2 separate regions of the Homo sapiens genome follow, and region 2 is linked to region 1. Evidence: fine-mapped expression QTL. A gene starts in region 1. The other region holds a variant in brackets. All regions are shown on one strand. Distances are between the middles of the regions. Region 1 holds the start of CAAP1 (caspase activity and apoptosis inhibitor 1). Region 2 overlaps IFT74 (intraflagellar transport 74).

Evidence for each region. PIP is the estimated chance that this variant, and not a neighbour inherited with it, causes the effect. A credible set is the group of variants that fine-mapping cannot tell apart.
Region 2: its variant is the best candidate, but not a certain one, in a credible set for the expression of CAAP1 in thyroid (GTEx, PIP 0.67).

The regions. Positions count from the first base shown.
Region 1 is chr9:26,890,405-26,895,789 of GRCh38, forward strand. CAAP1 (caspase activity and apoptosis inhibitor 1) reads right to left here and starts at 2,398. Exons shown (of 6, transcript NM_024828.4): 1 at 2,009-2,398. The coding sequence starts at 2,311. It also overlaps the pseudogene RN7SL100P. RefSeq lists enhancers at 1,797-2,376, 1,948-2,127, 2,208-2,427, 2,377-2,956, 2,558-2,627.
Region 2 is chr9:27,044,593-27,049,977 of GRCh38, forward strand. IFT74 (intraflagellar transport 74) reads left to right here. Exons shown (of 20, transcript NM_025103.4): 14 at 150-203; 15 at 2,682-2,779; 16 at 3,556-3,682. Among named protein-coding and RNA genes, the nearest start is that of LRRC19, 42 kb to the left of the region's middle. The variant T/C (reference allele first, on the strand shown) is at 2,656.

The DNA of each region.
Region 1 (5,385 bases):
TAAGAATGGTAATATCCAAAACTGAATCTAGAAGGGGTGGGAAAACTGAATAGATCTATATTAAATAATTTTTTTAAAGAGTGTCTTAAAAAATCACTCTAAAAAACTCCACTAGACCCAGATACTTCTGACAAATATTTGAGAAGAAAATATAAACCATTCTAGAACACACCAAAAAAACACAAAGCTTCCTAATTCAATCCATTACAAAAATAAAAACTACAGTCTGATCTAATTTAGAAACATATACATAAAAGTTGGCCGGGCACGGTGGCTCACGCCTGTAATCCCAGCACTTTGGGAGGCCGAGACGGGTGGATCACGAGGTCAGGAGATCAAGACCATCCTGGCTAACACGGTGAAACCCCGTCTCTACTGAAAATACAAAAAATTAGCTGGGCGTCGTGGCGGGCGCCTGCAGTCCCAGCTACTCGGGAGGCTGAGGCAGGGGAATGGCCTGAACCCGGGAGGCGGAGCTTGCAGTGAGCCGGGATCACGCCACTGCACTCCGGCCTGGGCAACAGAGCGAGACTCCGTCTCAAAAAAAACAAAAAAAAAGAAACACATACATGAAAGTAAAAATACTGAATTCCAGCCAAGTACAACAAACTCAACAAACCAAACAGCACTTGTCCCAAGACTCCAAAGACTGTTCAACATCAACTAACTTATCAACAAATTACATTATCTGACTAAAGGAGAAAAAGTATGTGATCATCTCAACAGAATGCCAGAAAACCACCTGATAAAATCTCTACATAAACTGTTTCTACTCTACCAAAGAGAATAATGAGCAGAGGATATGTACAGAAAATTACATAAGAAGAAATCAAATGGCAAATAAAAATATTAAAATGTTCAATCTCACTAATAAGGAAAATAAAAATTAAAACAAACTATTAATTTGACCCACTAGTCTGGCAATTTTTTTAAAAAATGCCATCAAAATGTCATCAAAAGCTAGTTAAGAATCTCAGAAATAGGTATTCTTATATATATACTGTTTGGACTATAAATCTGTAAAGTCTCATTTGGAAAGCATTTGGTGGCATTCATAAGTTTTTAATAGCATAAACTTTGACCCAGGAATTTCAGTTCTCACACTCTCTCCCAACATAACTCTTGTAGGAGATATATACATAAAGGTGTTTGTATTGTAGTCACAACAATACAAAAAAACCTGCACACCCAAATATCAGAAAAATATAATACAATACCAGGCAGTCAGTAAAAATAACAAACCACGTATATAAAGAAGCCTATCACAACAATGCAGGTATTCAACAGCGGGAATAACACAATACAGCTTAAGTGTAGGAACTTAAAAACACGTATCTCACGAGGAGTGATTAAAAGAGGCCGCGTATCAAAATACTAATGGAGGGGCAAGAAAAGGGACTTGACGCTTTCCCTTTATTTCCTCATTGAATGAATTTAAAGTACCTATTCATTCATTTGTTTTCAAACAAATTATGAACTTTTTTAAAACGGCGTTCTCTTGGCAGACTGGTGGCGTATAAAGAACATGGCTTTTGTAGTCAGATATTTGGATTCAAACCTAGGAGCTATTAACAAACTCTGTGACCGTGGGTAAAGTTTAACTTCTTTGGGCCTCAATTTTCTTATCTCTAATGCGGAGTTAACCATATCTACGAAAAGGTGAAGACGAAGGGAGAAGTGTTTGGCTCGCAAGGGAAATGAAGGCTAGCTTCCAACTCGTATTCTTCCGGCAGAGTGAAACCATAGGAGTGGAAGGAGCCAAGAGTTTAAAAAATAAATTAAAAAAAAAGTGATCAGGAAATCCAGAAACTTGAAGTTCAAGATTCAAGACACGGATGGGAGTGTGGGGCTCACCAGGACTTAGGTAGGAACATGAACCTCAAGGACGGACGACCTTGAGATTGCCGCGCTAGCAGTGAGCTCCAGCCTGCGCCCCATCCCTCTGGAAGCCCGACTTCTTCCGAAAAAGCAGCAGCTCCAGGAAGCGGCCAGAGGGGCGCGCACGCACCTGCTGCAAGGAGCCCGAGACGCTGGAAGAGTCGGTACTCCTCCGCTTCCGGCGCTCGCTGCGCTCCACGCTGCTCCCGCCCCAACAGCTGCCGCCGCTCCCACCGCCGGTGACACTTCCACTAAAATTGGCGTTCCCACAGCAGCTGACGCTCCCGCAGCCCCCGGCGCTCCCGCAGCCGCTAGTGCTTCCACTGCTGCCGCTGGCCAACGCGGGTACGATGTCCGGGGCCGCGAGCGCTGCGGCCGCCTCCTGACTGCTACGTTTGCGCCGTTTCTCCCGGGAGGACTTTTTCCCCGTCATGATCCCTCTGCTGCAACCATCGGAGGAAAGTCCGCTGTCTCTGGTGCGACCGAAGCCCGACTCCTGCGGCCGTGGGCGGCAGGCACTGGCGTCGCAGGTTATGCGTCACTTCCGGCCGTGGCACAGAACGTGGTGAAGCGTTATGGGCCGGGGTGGCAGGGGGGTTGCCATAACCAGTTGCGCTTCCCCCTCCGGTCGCGGAGGTCGATTTGAGTGTGTAGCGGGTAGCCTGTCTAGTCAGAGTTTGTTTTGTTTTGTTTTTATATCTCTACAAAGGATAGAAGGTGGAACTTACGTCCTTTTAACTTCAAAACTTTTTATTGTTAGTGTTTTGTCTGTTTACAATAAGGTTGAAGTATAGTTGCTGATTCTCCATTTCCGTTTACCTCCAAATCTTAAGATATTAACAACGCTATGACAATAAAGAGAATAGGGAAAAGTTGTTCCATCTCATTTTCCTCATCACCTGGGCAAATTAGGTATTTCTTGCGTAGAGTCTGACATGGACAAGTAGAGCTTGAGTTCGTTTTTGAAAATTGAGAATGGGTCAAAGCTTTATGAGATTTTATGGGTGGATGTAATCTAAATAGAAGGCAGATTTTAAGACAAGGGAGCTAGAACACTTAAAACGTGAACCAAGGTCTTTGTCGTTTCAGCAGGGGCCTTTAGCCACTGAGGGAAAAAGGTAGAGCCTGGGGCAAAGCTAGCTGGGTGGTAGTAATTCTGTGCCTTTCCCTGGGGTAAGAAGCAATTAAAGAAGCTTCCCTTCTCTTTGTCTCCTATTTGTCTCAGTCATTCAACAACTACTTAAATGCCTAAAACCAGCCTAGGGTTAATAAATAGGGACACTTCCAGCCCTAGGAAAACTGTCTTCCCCCAGGCCCCACTCTTAAATTGGCCTTGTAAGGTAAATCCTGGGGCTGAGCCCACTGTGTTCCCAGGAGTTCCGTTAAGTATCACACTCATTGGAGTCATACCTGAAAGGATTGAGAGTGTTGTGTTCACAGATAGGAAAAACACATAAAATTAATAACATGTTACATTTATAAACCTGTTATGAATTGTGTCCCTGAAACCATCATAATTTTAATAAAACTAAATTGCTAGATTTTTTCTTTTTTCTTTTTTTTTTTTTTGAGACGGAGTTTCACTCTCGTTGCCCAGGCTGGAGTGCAATGGCACAATCTCGGCTCACTGCAACCTCCGCCTCCCGGGTTCAAGCATTTCTCCTGCCTCAGCCTCCTGAGTAGCTGGGACTACAGGCATGCGCCACCATGCAGGGCTAATTTTGTATTTTTAGTAGACAAGGGGTTTCTCCATGTTGGTCAGGCTGGTCTCGAACTCCCGACCTCAGGTGATCCACCCGCCTCAGCCTCCCAAAGTGCTGGGATTACAGGCGTGAGCCATCGTGCCCTGCCAAATTGCTGGATTTGTGACAAAAGATAAGCTTTTAGTAGAAGCATAGCTAAACGTTAACCAACTTTTCCTATAGCCCACTTCCTTATAGCTGCTTATTGCTTTATAGATATCTTTGACTCGGTTAAGAAATCTCAAGTTTTCCATTTTGAGATATTTACCAGATTCTGTACTCCAATGGTGTTACAGAAGTTAAGAAATTATTTTAGGCAGATAGAGAGGTAAAGGGGTCTTTGGGAAGTTTTTTTTCTTTTAAAGCAGCTCCAGAAATGTTTCTTGTCTAGCAAAAAAGCTGGGCTGGCAAGCTATGATATGCAAATGCAGGCCGTTAGAAACTGGGTTTACTCAGTATGGCGATTCCCCTCTTCTTCTTGTCCCCACATGTGCCTAGCAACATGGCCATCCCCACATATCCCCACATGTGTAGAACATTGTGGCACCCTACATTCGCATATTAAAAGGCTAGGGTGGGAGGGCCACTTTTTTTGCAGGCTACGTGAATGACATACCTGGTCAAACCAATTCCCTGGGTCATATGCAAATTAGTCACCACCTCCTCCAGCCTCATAATATAACTGGCTCTTGTCTGCTGCACCCAAGGTTCCCTCTTTCATCTGGGAGCCCTCTTCCCTCTGGTTCTGTATGAGGGAGCCTCTTCTTTCTTGCCTATTAAATTCTCCGCTCCTTAAAACAATTCCACTTGTGTCTGTATCGTTTTATTTAAACCAGCACGAGACAAAAGACTGTGGTGTTCCTCCAGTCATTGGAACCATATCAGTGGGGTCACTGATGCTACTCAGTCTGAAGACCCCTTCTGAGAAACGAACTCAGCACAAGAATGCACTTTCTACCTCCTTATGATTACATCCCCCATGCCCTAACCAATCAGCAACCCCTAGCTCCTCAGCCCCCTACCCACCAAAATTCCCTTAAAAACCCCTGTCCAAAAACTTACTGGGGAGGTGATTTGAGGTTCCCTCCCATCTTCTCCCTTGGCTGGCATACCATTATTAAACTCTTTCTCTGCTGCAACTCCTGCTGTTTCCATGTATTGGTCTGGTACCATGTAGTGGTTAATAGAACCTGATGGTCCTATAACATCACCCACAGAATTCATATGTTGAATCCCTAACCCCAATGTGACTGAATTTGGAGATAGGGTCATTAAGGAGGTAATTAAGGTTAAATGAAGTCATAAGGGTGGGTCCCTAATCTAATATAACTGGTGTCCTTATTAAAAGAAGAGTCTGGGCCAGGCATGGTGGCTCACGCCTGTAATCCCAGTGCTTTAGGAGGCCGAGGCGGGTGGATCATGAGGAAGATGGAAACCATCCTGGCTAACACGGTGAAACCCCGTCTCTACTAAAAATACAAAAACAAAATTAGCTGGGCGTGGTGGCAGGCGCCTGTAGTCCCAGCTACTCAGGAGGCTGAGGCAAGAGAATGGCGTGAACCCAGGAGGTGGAGCTTGCAGTGAGCCAAGATCGCACCACTGCACTCCAGCCTGGGCGACAGAGCAAGACTCCGTCTCAAAAAAAAAAAAAAAGCCTGGTACAGTGGTGCATGCCTGCAGTGCAAGCTACTCAAGAGGCAAACTGGGGAGGATTGCTTGAGGCCAGAAATTCTGGGCTGTAGTGCGCTGTACTGATCAGTTGTCT
Region 2 (5,385 bases), 150 kb after region 1:
CTATAAGTCATTGTAAAAGAATTTCACCTAATCGAACACGTCGAATAGTCAATGACTAATGGCATAGAGAGAACCAAAGAGAGATTTTTAATTTAGAGCCCTGTATGTGCAATTTTTGAAATTCATGTTGTATTTTATATCTCTCATAGGTGAAATGAACCAGAAATACAAGGAGCTAAAGAAAAGGGAGGAACATATGGACAGTAAGTGATATTCTTGTAGATATAAAAATATAATATTTTCAGATTGCTGTTCATTTATACCAAATCAGAGACCTCATTTTGGGCAGATATAATGGCTAATAAATGCAGAAGTGTGGACATTCAAAGCATTTTGCCTTGAAGAATAGTTTCTAGCATAATTTAGAGATGGGTAGAAAATTCTAAAAAGATATGTGATGAGTGTCTATACGTTGGGGCTAGATTCTAAAGCTAGTACTTACATTCGTAGTCTGTACAGAGGAAACCTATAGACCAGGGGTCCCCAATCCCCAGGCTGCAGACCGGTAGGAACCAGGCCGCACACCAGGAGGTGAGCCACTGGCAAGCGAGCATTACCGTCTGAGCTCTGCCTCCTGTTAGATCAGCAGCAGCATTAGATTCTCATATGAGTGTGAACCCTATCGCGTATGAGGGATCTAGGTTGTACTCTTGTTATGAGAATCTAACCCCTGATGATCTCAGGTAGAACAGTTTCATCCCAAAACCATCACCCGCATCTGCCCCCAGCCCTGGTCCATAGAAAAATTGTCTTCCATGGTCCCTGGTGCCAAAATGGTTGGGGACTGCTGCTATAGATCATTTATTGATTGAATGTTCTCTTTTACATGCTTCACTATATTCACCTTTAGTATCTTTCACTTTTATATTTAGCTTTCCATAATACTTATCTCATTGTTTATTAGCCCTCACATCAGATATTGTCACTTTTTTCTATCACCAGCTATAATTTTAGTTGCCTTTTGTTAGTTTTGATTCACTTAAAAAAAATCTCAGCCTGATTTTATAAATTGGTTTTCACTTAAACCTATACATTTATAATTTTTTTAAAAAATTGGCATGTATTCTCAATTACTGGTTTCCTTTTAAGTTATCATTTTGCTGGAATCTGAATTCTAGCGAAGTGCTAGAATTTCATCTAGGTCTGATGTCAATAGTTACCTTCATGGAGGCATGCAATAAAAGAGTAATTGTCACCTCTTATTTTACAATGTACCAAGTTTTCTTTAAAATGTCAGTAAATACCAAAAATTATCTCAAAAATATTTTTTTAAGTCTTTTGGTAAAGGAGAAAGGTGTAAAATCAAGGAACAATGTGTCATGACACCACAGTATTGGAAATTACTAGATACTACCTAGTGTGGTATCTGGCACTTAGGTGTCAATAAGTGTTCATTTAATGAATGTTTACTGAATGAATGGAAAGAATTCCTATACTACAGAATCTTAAAATAGAAGGTCACCTAGCTCAGATTTCTTTCCACATATTAATTATGGTTTGTTTTCCTTAAAAAATAACCCCTGAAAGACAATGTTCATTTATGCCTTTGTATATGTAAAAATCTCATATGTCCACTTAATGTGTGATCAACAGATTATAGAAGCAGGATATTCACACATAAGACCTGTGTGAATGCTGAAGCAGGACATTAAAGAAAATTCAGTTTTATAAAAAATGTTGATTGTGGTCCTCTACCACCATATTCAAATAAAAAATGTTTTGTTGAAGACTGTTTTACTTTAAAAAATATGCTAAATATAAGAAAAAAGTATAATGGGAATCCATTACAGAAGGCAAGCTATTGATGTTATTCATGCTAACAGTAAAATTATTTTTGACTGAAAGTTTCTATTTTTTAGATGCTCCATAGAAATACTCGAAAATGTAAATAAGAGCTGTTTCTATATTAAACAAGTAAAAAGATAATTTCCTAGAATATTTATTTACAATCTGAATACATTATTAAATTCATTTAGTTGAAATGAATCCAGCATTGTAAATAAAATACTTATTTTCAGATAAAATGGGTATTCAGCATTGGAAATTATAGAAATAAAGTTAGTAGTCAGGGTGTTAATAATTATTGATGTATCAAAGGAGATCTTTATAAAAGCAAATTTCTTCTGATTGTCATTTTATCAGCTATTTCTTTTGAGCTTATATTTATAACTTTCTGATTTACTTATATCAAGGTCACAGGATTTAGGCAGTTTGAAAGTATATAAAGTTCTTATTGAATAATAATTACCTTTGGGTTAATAACAAATTAAACAGTGGCAGCTTAAAATTTCTAAAAATTGGGCCAGGTGCCGTGGCTCAAGCTTATAATCCCAGCACTTTGGGAGGCCGAGGCGGGTGGATCACGTGGTTAAGAGATCGAGACCATCCTGGCCAACATGGTGAAACCCTGTCTCTGGTAAAAATACAAAAATTAGCTGGGCGTGATGGTGCATGCCTGTAGTCCCAGCTACTCAGGAGGCTGAGGCAGGAGAATCCCTTGAACCCAGAGGTGGAGGTTGCAGTGAGCCGAGATCGTGCCACTGCACTCCAGCCTGGCAACAGAGTGAGACTCTGTCTCAAAAAAAGAAAATTCTAAAAAGCACTCTTAAGAACTGCAAATCAGAGTTTATATAGTGTTAACTCTATCAGCAGTAA[T/C]CTCTCTTATGTTTTCCAATTGTCAGCTTTTATTGAGACTTTTGAGGAAACAAAGAATCAGGAACTGAAACGAAAGGCACAGATAGAAGCCAACATTGTTGCACTCTTGGAGCACTGCAGTCGAGTGAGTACCATGTGCCTGTCTTGGTGTCCTCTTTATTTTTGCCGTGATTAACTTTCCAAATACAACTCAAAAAATAGAACGGCTCACTATTGTATCTTCTCATTTAACTGCTTCCTTTCAATTCCCTTACTTGTTACTATTTATTTCAGCTATTAACTTTTTTATCACTCTAGCAAAATGTCAGGTAATTAGGGCAATAGAGAAAAAGGATGACATGTATAATATCAATATTCAGCAGTAAATGAAGCACTAATTCAGAGTAATTATTATGATCTTCTTCCATTGTTAATCTATCTGAACTTTTGAAAGTAACATTTGCACAGATAATTTCAAAATCTAGACATGTTAGAAAATGTTAATGTATTTTTATACTGTAAATTTATTGTAAATAAAAAGATTCTTGTATGTATATGTAATGAGTATCTCAAATTATCAAAAAATGTTTATTGGGCATCTATTATGAAATGCATGCCCCCCTTTCAATATTCTAGTGTTTTAAGACTCCAACCAGTTTCTAAAATAGTGTAGTTGAATTTTTTCTGCAGTGAAATAAAGGAAATGAAAAAAAACCCACAATTTTGAATTTATAGTCTGTCTTTATTGAGAAAACCCAATTTGGAATCTCATTTTCTATACAATATATAACTTGAATGGTGTATTTCAAAAAAAATACCTGATCCAAACATCTCATCCTTTGACAGTGTTTTCCAAGAGTTTTATTGAGAACTAACTAAATCAGTGGATTTTTTTCTATTTTTATTTCTCTGCAAATGCAGAATATAAATCGTATAGAACAGATATCCTCTATCACCAATCAAGAGCTAAAGATGATGCAGGATGACCTCAATTTTAAATCTACTGAAGTGCAGAAATCACAAAGTACAGCTCAGAATTTGACTTCAGGTGAGAAAACAACCTAGATTTTAATATTCTTTTTTTTTAAAATATATCAATGTTATTCTCTGATTATTTTAAAGCCTCATTGACAGAGGCTATAATTTATGATTGCCTATTGCCCCAGAATTATGTGTGGCTTTTTTCATCAGCTGGCTAGTATTATGTTGTATATTGTCACTGATTTAACAACATTTATTGAATACTTATTTCAAGCCTGTGCTATATAATTCTGGATATTGTTAAAGATAAACAAAGCTGGATGCATGTTAAAGTGCTAAGGATAGATTTTAGTCAGTAATACAGCGTGGCAGTAAGGCAGGAGGGTCCAGCATGAATTGAAATCAACTTTGATTTGTACAGAGGTGATTGAGTGTTTTAAAGGGAGAATGAGGGAGTAGTAAGGGAAATGAAAAATTACAGGGTTCATCAATGTACATGCTGGTTAGGCCAGCTGTGTCTGTTAGCTGGCAATTATCAAGTTAGGAGTCTATGTTTATACACAGACTAGCAGACAGAGGCCCTAACTTTCCTGATAATCACGTTTTAATGGAATGGCTTTTAGGTCCTTGAGGAAAATACTCCTGAGTTGTGGGAGGTACATACAGATATGGTTTGGATTTTTTGTCCCCTCCAAATTTTATGTTGAAATGTGACCTCTAGTGTGGGAGGTGGGCCTAGTGGGAAATGTTTGGGTCATGGGGGCGGATCTCTCGTGAATGGCTCAGTGTCATCCTTGCAGTAATTAGTATGTTCTCTGTGAGTTCACGCAAGATCTGGTTGTTTAAAAGAGCCTGGTACCTCCTCCTTCTCTCTCTTGCCTTGTAACATGCAGGCTCCCCTTTGCCTTCTGTCATGATTGTAAGCTTCCTGAGGCCCTCACCAGAAGCAGTTGCTGGCACCATGTTTCATGTACAGCCTGTAGAACCATTAGCCAAATAAACTTATTTTTTAAAAATAAATTACCCAGTCTCAGGTATGCCTTTATAGCAATGCAAATAGACTAGTACACATATACATCTTAAAGGTACAGAGGAAAGATTCACAACTGGATACCCTAAGAAAGGGTAGTCAGGGGCCTGTTGACCAGTACGGGCTAGAATAAATAGTACATTCTTTCGGCGGCCTTGAGCTTTGTCTGGCAGGCACTTTAAGTGGGGATAGGGTCATCCCAGGGATGCAGACTTGAGCTGTTAGAAACTGTTTGTTTAAATCTTCTAATGTGGGTAGAAGGTGGTGCATGAAATCATTTGTGCTGAGAGTGGAATTTTTATAGGCAGAGGTTGAGGCCTAGTTGAGAAGAGAGCTCAGAGGAGCCTAGCTAGTTTGGTCAAGGATTGAATCTTTGTCAGTATAAGAGGCTTAAAAAAATCTAATCTGTTTCCTCAAGAAACTTTCAACTTGGTGGAGTGACAGTTATGATACAATGAAATAATGCTATGATAGAAGTAAGCATAAGGAGCAACGGAAGTACATAGGGCACATATCCAGCCTAGTCTTGGATAGTTAAGAAGAGATGATGTTTCACTTTAATTAGTTTCAGTCATGCTTGCTATCATGAGACTAGAGCAGCACTGTCCAAGAGAAATTTAATGACAGTATATATTATATTTATATAAAGTTTTCGAGTAGCCATGTTGACAAAGTAAAAAGAGACAGATTAATTTTAATAATATATTGTATTTAAACTGATATAGCCAAGTTATTATTTC